Linked DNA regions of Homo sapiens. The protein of the gene in region 3 purifies or fractionates together with the protein of the main gene of each other region. This does not show direct contact. Each region holds a gene or a part of one and is shown on either strand. Other genes may lie near its edges.

Region 1 (3,652 bases), on a different chromosome or scaffold from region 3:
TAATGTCCCAGGAGGAATTCAGAATACAGAATGCCAGTCGGTTCACATGTTCCTGATTAAAGAATGAAAGCATGTCATTGCCTTCAAACCAGAAAATGAAGTTCAGGCCAAGTTTCCTTGCCAACCTCCACTTAAATGGACTGCTGGGTCAATCAAGATTCTCCATTCCAAACGTAAACTGACCAAGGCCCACATCTAGATTTTAGGCCACTCCCTAGCACACTGGCACACCACTGAATTCAGTGCTTGTCAAGAATCAATTGTTTGTTCACACATCTGTTTGATGTCAGTTGTACTTGTTATCGTCGTGTTGAGTAATTTAATTATCATATAAACTGACAAAAAGAGTATCCACAAAAACTAAGCTGAACAGTTTGAAAAATCCAATAAAGGAATGTCACAGAAAAAAGTTCTTGGCAGATGAGGGGTGTCCTAAACTACTGTATAAAATTGAAAACAAATTAAAACTCCTGAAGCATATCAGTTCATACGCCTTTAAGTTCTGACCCCACCCAAAAGAAACTCAAAGTAGCAATGGTAGATTATGTTTTATGAAGGAGGGTGTGCAAGATGCAGCTGAAACCAGTGGCCCAGCACTCAAAGCCTGCAATCCTACATCAAACTACGGGCAACTCAGTGTGTATTAATATTTTGAGTTTAATTCAAATATTAACTATTTAAGGGGGTATGTATTTATGTATTTTTTTTAATGATTCCCTACTATAAATGACACTTTTGATTAGTGGACAGGTTTTCAAATAGCACTCAGAAGACACTGTTTTTTATAACCAGACTGTGTCAGACTTTTAGTAAACAAGCCTCCACACATTCAACTGCAGTGTCCATTAAGTGCTGTAGAGGTACAAAAAACAGCCTCCTTGGCCAGGTGCAGTGGCTCACGCCTGTTAATCCCAGCATTTTGGGAGGCCGGGGCAGGTGGATCACGAGGTCAGGAGTTTGAGACCAGCCTGGCCAACATAGTGAAACCTTGTCTCTACTAAAAATACAAAAAATTAGCTGGGCTTGGTGGTGGGCGCCTGTAATCCCAGCTACTTGGGAGGCTGAGGCAGGAGAATCGCTTGAACCTGGGAGGCAGAGGTTGCAGTGAGCTGAGATCACGTCACTGCACTCCAGCCCGGGGGGTGACAGTGCGAGACTCCGTCTCAAAAAAAAAAAACCCAAAAACCTCCTTGATAATAGTGGACAGTTACAAACTAGGCTAATAGTTTATAGGAACTATCACTGAACCCTTGCGAGGTTCCCAATGTTGCTTACATTACACAAATGAAAAAACTGAGACTTAGAGATGTTAAGCTACTTGTCCTCGATCACACAGCAGGACAGACCCATCATCTGATCCCAGGACATCTAATCCCCTTTTCTTCATCACTTACCTGCCAATATGTTACTAATGTCTTATACATGATGAAATGAAACAAGCAAGCTACAATACAGTAACGTGCAGAGCAAGCCCACTGATTTTCAGTATATGTACGTACACATAAAAAAGACAGGAAAGCTATAAATCAAAATACTCATTAGGGTATCTCTGAATAATACAGTTACAGCTGATTTTAGTTTTCATCTTTGTGCTTTTCTTAGTTTCCAAAATATCTGCAATGAAAAGACATTACTTTGGCAATCAGAAGAAAAAAGCCATCTGTGAGCTCTGCCCTTTACTTCTTTTTTTTTTCTTTAGAGACGGAGTCTCGTTATGTCGCCCAGGCTGGAGTGCAGTGGCACGATCTCTGCTCACTGCAAGCTCCGCCTCCCAGGTTCATGCCATTCTCCTGCCTCAGCCTCCGGAGTAGCTGGGACTACAGGAGCCTGCCACCATGCCCAGCTAATTTTTTGTATTTTTAGTTGAGACAGGGTTTCACCATGTTAGCCAGGATGGTCTCAACCTCCTGACCCCGTGATCTGCCTGCCTCAGCCTCCCAAAGTGCTGAGATTACAGGTGTGAGCCACCGTACACGGCCTGCCCTCTACTTCTTTACCACATGTGCAGGGCTGTTTTAATTTTTAAAAAGATCTGAAATTTAACAGCATCAGGTTATTCTTATTTTTAGTAACCATTAAAACATCAAAGGTTGGGGGACAGCATTCACCACCATCCTGAAAAATCGCTCTTCTTGGATATATAAACCAATATTAGAACTTTCTTTGCTATAATTTATAGCATTATAAAACCATAAAACAAAATGAAAAGCCAAACAATCATTATATACAAGTATTCAACAGCTTTCTATAGGGAAAAAAGTCTACAATGCAATTATAGCTATCATTTCATTACCTTTTCTGTAAACAAGTCTGCTGACAACAACAATAGTTATACTATCATGCCTTCTAAATGGGTCTGGAGTGAAGTCAGTAGGATCTACAGCATTAGGAATGACGGACACTATTTCAGGATTCAGTGCTGCTCTTAGTACAGTATTTTCCTTACTAGTATAAGACACACAAATGATGTGGTTTGTATCACAAAGAGACACGGTTAGAAGCTTGTTTGTAAGCACCGAGCTGACATCAGCAAATCCAAAAAGGGAATGGTCCGTGAAGACTGTCTGAAGCCCCATTGTCTTGGCGTGGAAGAGAGCATCATGGGCCATAGCAGAAAAAGAACTATGTGAATGGATTATCGTGACTCTCTCCCGAACAAATATGTACCTGAGCAATGGCAGACTGTGAAAGAGGGTCGTGGCTGTAGACTGGTTGTACATGACTTTCAGAGGCAAGTAATAGACTTTGAGGCCACTGGTGAGGTAACGGATGCCTTTTCGATTTCCATAAGCATGGGTGACAATTATAACCTTATGCCCTCTTTCAATCAGGCACTGAGAGAGCTGGTAAATGTGGCTTTCCACGCCTCCCATATTTGGGTAGAAAAAGTCAGATACCATGCATATATTATGGGTACGGGTTCTACATGTGTAAAGACTTCCAGGGCTAACCCGAGAGAGTGTAGCTGAGGCACGGTGGCCATTCCCAGCTCCTCCTCTACAGGCCATGCTGAGACGGTTTAGACATCAGTTCTTAGAGCAACCCAGTTAAGAGATGTGTCCTCTATTACCTGAAAAAGAGTAAAACAGGATCTCAGCTCAGAAACAAAACACATTCCATATTACAAATCCAGATATAGATATTGTTTTAATGTTAATGTAAATTTGTTAGCTTTCCCCAGAATTAAAAATAAAGCAAATCATCAATTTACTCATTTGACATTTACTTGCTTGGCATTTACATACAACAAAACTAGGTTCTACCATGTCTTAATTTTGCCCTAAAAATACTGCTACATGTAACTTTAAATAGTAAGTTTGTTACACCACAGCATATCATGGTTTACCACGTTAACAAACCAGTCTCTTCCAATAATTAAGTATATATACACACATACATACACACATTTATATATTTCCCCTTTACTCTTATACTTTACCAGCTTCTATTAATACTTATTAAATGGCCACTATACATCAGCTACTACATGCTAAGACTCTTCTATATCTTATTGCAGCCTCACCAAAACTCCATGAGTTATCAACTCCATCTTATAAATGGAAAGTCTAAAGCTTAAAGGGGTTAAGAAATTTGTTCAGTTATTCAGTGCTTAGAGGTAACACAATGTAGCAGTCTGATTCATTAGCGGTCA
Region 2 (3,652 bases), about 11 Mb from region 3:
GAGGTTTCCTCTAATACAAAACGTGTACAGTAAGATCTGTGATACAAGTAAACATATTACAATTCTACTACAATGTTCTTCTTCAAAATACTCTTCACTTTAAAAGCTTATATTTTCTTAAAGATATTTTGACAGTAGTTGCACTTATGTTTTTATTGAGTATGAACTCTCTGATGTTGAGTAAGATGTGAGCATGTATTAATGGCTTTTTCACAGTCTTTATATTTGTACAATATTTCTCAAGTATAAATGCTTTCCTGTGAAGGTGTGAGCATTAGTTAAAAGTTTTGTCACACTGTTCACACATGTAGAAGTTTTCTCCAGTATAACTTACCTTACCTACAATCAAGTGTGACAACCATTTAAAACTTTATCACATTCTTCACATTTCTAGGATTTCTCAACACTATGATTTATGTTTTGAAAAGTTTGAGGTGTTTTCAAAGCACTGTCACATCTTTCTGGTTTGTAGAATTTCTCTCTAGTATGAATTATCTTATGTCTGTTAGGAATTGAGAATTTATTAAAGGCTTTGCCATATTCTTCACAGTCACAGGAGTTCCCTCCAGTATGAATTTTTTTATGTTTAGTAAGAGTTGAGGACTGGTAAAAGGCTTTGCCACATTTTTCACATTTGTAGGGTTTCTCTCCAGTATGAGTTATTTTGTTTAATAAGGCTTAGGGACTGGTTAAAGTCTTTACCACATTCTTCCCATTTGTAAGATTTCTCTCCAGTATGAGTTATCTTATGTTTAGTAAGGGTTGAGGATCGGTTAAAAGCTTTGCCACATTCCTCACATTTGTAGGGTTTCTCTCCAGTATGAATCATCTTATGTGCAGTTAGTTGTGAGGACCGGTTAAAGGCTTTGCCACATTCGTCACATTTGTAGGGTTTCTCTCCAGTATGAATCATCTTATGGGTAGTAAGGTTTGAGGACTCATTAAAAGCTTTGCCACATTCTTCACATTTGTAGGGTTTCTCTCCAGTATGAATTCTCTTATGTTTAGTGAGGGCTGAGGACCAGTTAAAGCCTTTGCCGCATTCTTCACATTTGTAGAATTTCTCTCCAGTATGACTTGTCTTATGTTTAGTAAGGTATGAGAATCGGTAAAAAGCTTTGCCACATTCTTCACATTTGTAAGGTTTCTCTCCAGCATGAGTTATCTTATGTGTAGTAAGGGTTGAGGACTGGTTAAAGGCTTTGCCACATTCTTCACATTTGTAGGGTTTCTCTCCAGTATGAATTATCCTGTGTGTAGTAAGGTGTGAGGACCGGTTAAAAGCTTTGCCACATTCTGTACATTTGTAGGGTTTCACTCCAGTATGAATTCTTTTATGTGTAGTAAGGTGTGAAGACCGGTTAAAAGCTTTCCCACATTCTTCACATCTGTATGGTTTCTCTCCAGTATGAATTATCTTATGTGTAGTAAGGTGTGAGGACCGGTTAAATGCTTTCCCACATTCTTCACATTTGTAGGGTTTCTCTCCAGTATGAATTCTCCTGTGTGTAGTAAGGGTTGAGAACCAGTTGAAGGCTTTGCCACAATCTTTACATTGGTAGGAATTCTCTGTAATATGAAATCTTTTATGTTGAGTTAGGTGTAAAAGCATGCAAAATGATTTTTCACATTTTTTACATTTGAAAGGTTTCTTTCTAGTATGTCTTATCTTATGTCTGTTTGAATTTGAAAATGTATGAAAGACTTTTGCAGATGGATCACATTGAAATATGTTGCTCTGGGTAGTTATCAAACACTGGTTTAATTTGTTATCATGTTCTTTGTGCACTTTACACTCATCCACACTTTTACAGCCTTTTTGTAACTGTAAATTGTCATGTCCATATTTTCCATATTTTTTCAGAATCGCTTCTTGAAAAGAATCTTTAATGTCCTGCTCTGCCCAAAGGTCTTGGGGAAAATGAGAACATATAACTGAAAGAAATAAAAATAACAAATTACTTTACTTACTAGACACAGATAGTTTACAAATCTAACCTCTAATATACAAACTACATAAATAAGATGGCATAGGAAAATACCAAAGGCCCTCATTCCTTTATAGACATATAAATGTAAAAAAAAAAAAACCAACCAAATTACATCTGAAAAAAATTATAAATGAGTTAAGTGTGTGAAGTGCCCCTGGTGAGAACAATGCAAAGAGCCACTTAGAAGTAAAAGTCTGTACATTTACCCAACAGAGCTCTTTCTGCTCCCCAATATAACATACTGTCTTTAGAAGTAAATTGCCAACTTGTTTTTAATGACAAGTAAAATACTGGCACATTTATCTTTATTACTTGCTTCTAGGAGCCTTTCCAGACACTGGTTTGTGTCTCTCTTGAAATATAATGCTGAAAGAAACGGTGGTATACTTTGGAGTGACAGTCTTAACTTTGCTGAGACCAAAGGTAAATGTTTCAGCAACAGAGAGACTGCTGTACCACAGACAGAAAACAGGTGTAGCACGTGATTATTATTAAGAAGAAACATGAATAAACTCCTTTAACTAAAAGAGAAAGACAAAATCTCAGACAAGACACATTCTAAGAACATGTTTGAGAGACTCCCAGAATCTCTAACCAAGACGATTGTTCAGACTATGCCAGGACAAAGCTACATTATAAAGATTGTGACAGGTAGCCTTTTTTAATGTCCAAATTTCAATCAAGGATTACAATGTATACAAAATAAGGCAATATGGTTCCATAAAAATATAAAATTTTAAAAAAGAAACTATAAAAAAGATGTATACACACCGATTTTAAAAATTGAAAATAAATTGAATAATACTCAGTGAGTGAAACAGGAAGACAGAGAACTATAGAAAATCAGAAAAATGAAGATAAGAACATAAATATTTAGAATATCAAAAAAACAAATTGTGGAGGTAATAAATATAAAAAAGAATAGCTGAAAAATATTGAAAGAAACGATGTAAAGATGAAGAAGCTCAACAAACAAACTAGGAAACACACAAAGATATTTATAACAAACACATATATAAGCACAATTTCAAAAGTCACAGACAAGAGAACCTTGGGAGCTGCAAGATAAAAGTGATGCGTCATTTGCCAGCATAGTCTTATGAGACAGCCAGTGAATTGTCAATAAAAATTTTGCAGGCCAGAAGGGAAGTGTGTAATAAAGTCAAACTCCTGTAAAATACAGCAATCAAGTAAGCATAATACTATCAGCAAATCTGTCCTGCCAAATAAAAAGAAAATAACTTTCAAAAGTAACAAAATTCTGAAAAGTATATTGGAACTCCATAAACCCTACATACAAAATGTACTGAAAGCAGTTGCTTCTATTGAAAATAACATGATTCAACAAAAACAACACAGTCAAATAAAAATACATTACTTTCGGGAGGGGGGAGGGATAGCATTAGGAGAAATACCTAATGTAAACGACGAGTTAATGGGTGCAGCACACCAACATGGCACATGTATACATATGTAACAAACCTGTACATTGTGCACATGTACCCTAGAACTTAAAGTATAATAATGAAAGAAAAAATAAAAACAAAACAAAACAAAAACAAAAAACAACAAAAAAATACATTACTTTCTGGGAAAGATTATATGCACATATATACTTTTACTTCTAAGTATATGCACATACACCAAAATGGAATTCCTTA
Region 3 (3,752 bases):
TTTGGCCAGGTGTGGTGGGTCCTGTCTGTAACTCCAGCACTTTGGGAGGCTGAGGCAAGAGGATCCCTTGAGTCCAGGAGTTTGAGGTTGCAGTGAGCCGTGATCACACCACTGCACTCCAGCCTGGGCAACAGAGCAAGACCTTGTCTCTACAAAAAAATGAAAAAATTAGCCTGACATGGTGGTGCACACCTGTCATCCCACCTACTTGGGAGGCTGAGGTGGGAGGATTGCTTGAGCCCAGGAGTTTGAGGGTACAGTGAGCTATGGTTGCAGCTCTGCACTCTAGCCTGGGTGAAAAAGTGAGACTGTCTCTAAAAAAACTAAGAAGCAGCAGCAGCAGCAGCAACAACAACAACAACAACAACAAACGAACAAACCGCAGATCCACCCTACCATTGCCCCTGCCTCTGTTGAGCATTTTTGCCATGCGTAAATAAATGCCTGCTCATCCGCAGTCAGCAGTCTGAGGAAATTCTGAAACCAAATTACACATAGGCTAGTGCTCTATGCCATCAATCTGTAATGTATCTTGTTATTTGATTTTTACGTCCTTTAATACATTTCCTAAGAAGTCTGCTTTGGAAAAATCACCAAAGGAATTAGAAGAGAGAGAATAAGAAAACCCAGAAAAACTAAAAGGATTTTTCTTCCCCCCATTTTTTATTAAAATCCAATCAACCTGCACAGTGCGAGTGAGTGAGTGACTGTCTACGCTTTCACTAACGGACCATCAGTTTCTCTCAACCTTCTCTCCATAAACGGAGAATATCAAATGAGGGTCTGGGGGTGTTAGAAAAGGGTTGGGAGCCTCAGCTCAGGTTGGTGGGCCCGCTGTGCCATGGAGCCTTTGGGGACCTCTGATTTCACATCCGTCTTGGCCCTAAATGGCCTTCTCAAACCTTCCCCCTGTCTCTCCTGGTTCTTGCCTCATTGGACTCAACCTCTTGGTGGGCAGCTCTCCAGAGGGCACCCCCAGCCTAAGAAGCAGGCCTCCTCCCAAGTCCCCAGCCTCACGAGGATAGTGGGTAACAGGGTGGGCTCAGGGGGCCCTGGGAGATCTCCAGAGGCCTCTGGTGTGTTCACCAATGTCCCCTGACAGGTCTTGCTTGGCACAGGGGGTTCCTCTTAGAGACGTGACAGGGCACTTGGACTGTGGCAAATGAAAGAAGCGGAGGGGCAGGAACAGGGACACCTTGCGAAGAAGACAGGCCTTAGCCTTGTGCCACCCCTATGAGGTCCCTAAGCCGTCCTCTCTCTCCCACCTTTTCCCAGTCCTCGCTCCCCGGTCCTCCTCAGCACAGCCGGCTCCAGGAGGGATCAATTCGTGGGCCCGGGAGGAGGCCAGGCGAGCACCGGCTGCCTGGAGCACTGGGCTGGAGCGCGGGGAGCGCGGCGGGGGGCGCGGGCGGGGCGGGGCTGGTGCGCAGAGCTGTCCAGCACCCCGAGGCGGGGCGTGCGCCCCCGGCCCGCCCCAGCCGCCTCCGCCCGCCCAGCCAGCGCCACTGCGGCTCGGCGGGCGCGTCACGTGGCTGGCGCAGCGCGGCCTCCAGGCTCCGGGCGCGGGCGAGGGGCCGGGCGGGAGGACTGACAGACCCACGGACGCTCTACCGGCGGCACCCGGCCGGGCGGGCTGGGCGCAGCGCGGGGCGGCCCGGGGACGCCGGGGCCGGGCGGGCTGCGCGCCGCGGGGCATGGGCGCGCCGGGGGTCCCCGGGCCCAGGCCGGCCGCGGCGGGGCTCCCGGGGCGCGGGGGCAGCGGCGGGCGGGGGTCTTCCCTGGCGGCCGCCGCTGAGCCCCCGCAGGGCCCGTGACGCCGCGGCCGATGTGGCCGCGCGCGCCCTACGGGCCTGCACCGCCACCGCACAAAGACGCCTCGGGAGCCGCCGCCTGCACCCGGGCCGCAGCAGCCACGCCAGCCGGAGCCCGAGCCCTAGCCCGAGCCCGAGCCCGAGCCGCAGCCAGAGCCAGAGCCGGAGCCGCAGCCGGAACCGGAGCCGGAGCCGCGGGGCAGGAGGCGGCGCCCGCGGGCGGCCGGGCCCGGCATGGAGAAGCGCGCGGCCGCGGGGCTGGAGGGCGCGCCGGGCGCCCGGGCGCAGCTGGCCGTCGTCTGTCTGGGTGAGTGGGCCGCGCGGGCCGGGCAGGTCCGGGTCCCCCGCATGGCAGTCCGCGCCGCGCCCTGACCGACCTCCTCTCCGGCCGCGGCATCCCGAGCCCCCCACCGCGGTGGCTCCCGCGCGGAGACCCAGAGAGGGGCCAGCACCGCTTGCCCGCCTGGCCCCGGGCCTGGGAGGGCGACTCTGGTGGCGCAGCCCCGGCTCCCGCCCCGCTCGGAGTAGCGCCCGGAGCCCGGGCTGAGCGCTGGCAGGAGGCCCTTCGTGCAGGCGGCAGCCTTCAACCCGGCCCGCCCGCGCTGAGCCTGGAGACGAGGGGGCCCCGGGAGCTGGGGACAAAGGCCAGGCCGGCTGTCCCCTGAAGAAGAAACTGTTTCCGGCCCGGAGTTGGGGTGGGGGCTGGTGTAAGCCGCAGATGGGGACTCGGGGTGCGGGGCAGGGCTGGAGGAGGGTGCCAGTGTGGAGGCGGCTTCCAGGGGACTCCTGTTTTCCCTTTGTGTCTCTCAGCCCCCAGGCAGGCCTGTTCAGTTTAGGAGGGTGCTTGGGTTGGGCCAGGGACCGGTCAAGGCCAGGCATGGGGTGGGAGGGGCTCCCGCCCTGTCCGGGAGTTTTTCTGTCCAGCTTTCCAGCGCTCTGTGTAGGCGAGAGGAGGAGTTAAATCCCCAACCCACATGGCTCCTTTATTTACTGTGATGAAGGAGGGAGGCCATTATAAGAACTGGGGGTCATTAGGGGACACCCTGTGATGTCACCAGTGAGGGCTCTGTAACCTGACAGGTTTGCTGAAGCCACTGAAATGACAAAGTAATCACCCCCAGGCCTCAGGGAGCTCCGAGGCTCTGGCAGGCCCTTGCCCCAGCTGTGTGAGCCTGGCTCAGTGGGAATGTGCCATTGGGGAGCATTGAGGGTGTAACCCCAGCGCGCCCACCCCAACCTCAGTGCGGGGTCATGTGTGCTGGGCTCTGAGCTGCTGGGTGCTGGCATCCCTGGTGAGCAGAGCAGGGGGACAGGCGCTCCATGCTTAGGAGCTTTGGCCTGGCTCTGTCCAGGGGGCCTGGGTGTCCTGGGTGGGGGCAGCGGTTCCTGCTTCCTGGCCAGGCGGGATCTGACACACATCCTGAACCCCGGGAAGTTGGGTTTCCCCCCACCCCCCGACTCTGGGCCCGTAACCCCCCGGGCCAGAGCAGAAGGTGAAAGTAAGGGCCAAACCCCACGGAGGTGGGTGCTTGAGGGGTGGCTGGGGAGTTCTGCTTTCCTCCTCAAAGTCAGCTTGGCACGGGGGAAGAGGATGGTTCCGTCACTAGCTGCGTGCCCTGTAAATGGGGATTATCAGAACTGCCTCCCCTCCTGCCTCTGCTGCTGCTGGGCGAGCAAAGCCCCTTGGTAGGGGGAAGCCCTTCAAAGTTGTAGGAGCAGGCCAGGGTGCGGTGGCAGGTGCCTGTAATCCCAGCACTTTGGGAGACCAAGGCAAGAGAATTGCTGGAGGCCAGGAGTTTAAGACCAGCCTGAGCAACACAGTGAGACCTCATCTCTACAAAAATAAAAAATAAAAAAATAACCAGGCATAGTGGTGCACACCTGTAGTTCCAGCTACTTGGGAGGCTCAGGTGGGAGGATTGCTTGAGCTCGGGAGTTTGA

What was found.
Region 1: the proteins of LRP3 (region 3) and PIGA purify together in Homo sapiens (affinity purification with mass spectrometry; one large-scale study listed by BioGRID and IntAct). This does not show direct contact.
Region 2: the proteins of LRP3 (region 3) and ZNF100 purify together in Homo sapiens (affinity purification with mass spectrometry; one large-scale study listed by BioGRID and IntAct). This does not show direct contact.

What each region holds. Positions count from the first base shown.
Region 1 is NC_000023.11:15,328,923-15,332,574, forward strand, and holds part of PIGA (phosphatidylinositol N-acetylglucosaminyltransferase subunit A), read right to left. Parts: intron 3,071-3,652; 5' UTR 3,009-3,070; coding exon 2,294-3,008; intron 1,726-2,293; exon of another isoform or gene 1-1,725. UniProt on the Homo sapiens protein: Catalytic subunit of the glycosylphosphatidylinositol-N-acetylglucosaminyltransferase (GPI-GnT) complex that catalyzes the transfer of N-acetylglucosamine from UDP-N-acetylglucosamine to phosphatidylinositol and participates in the first step of GPI biosynthesis.
Region 2 is NC_000019.10:21,726,055-21,729,706, forward strand, and holds part of ZNF100 (zinc finger protein 100), read right to left. Parts: intron 1,936-3,652; coding exon 629-1,935; 3' UTR 1-628.
Region 3 is NC_000019.10:33,192,741-33,196,492, forward strand, and holds the start of LRP3 (low-density lipoprotein receptor-related protein 3 precursor), read left to right. Parts: upstream 1-1,589; 5' UTR 1,590-2,045; coding exon 2,046-2,118; intron 2,119-3,752. UniProt on the Homo sapiens protein: Probable receptor, which may be involved in the internalization of lipophilic molecules and/or signal transduction. Its precise role is however unclear, since it does not bind to very low density lipoprotein (VLDL) or to LRPAP1 in vitro.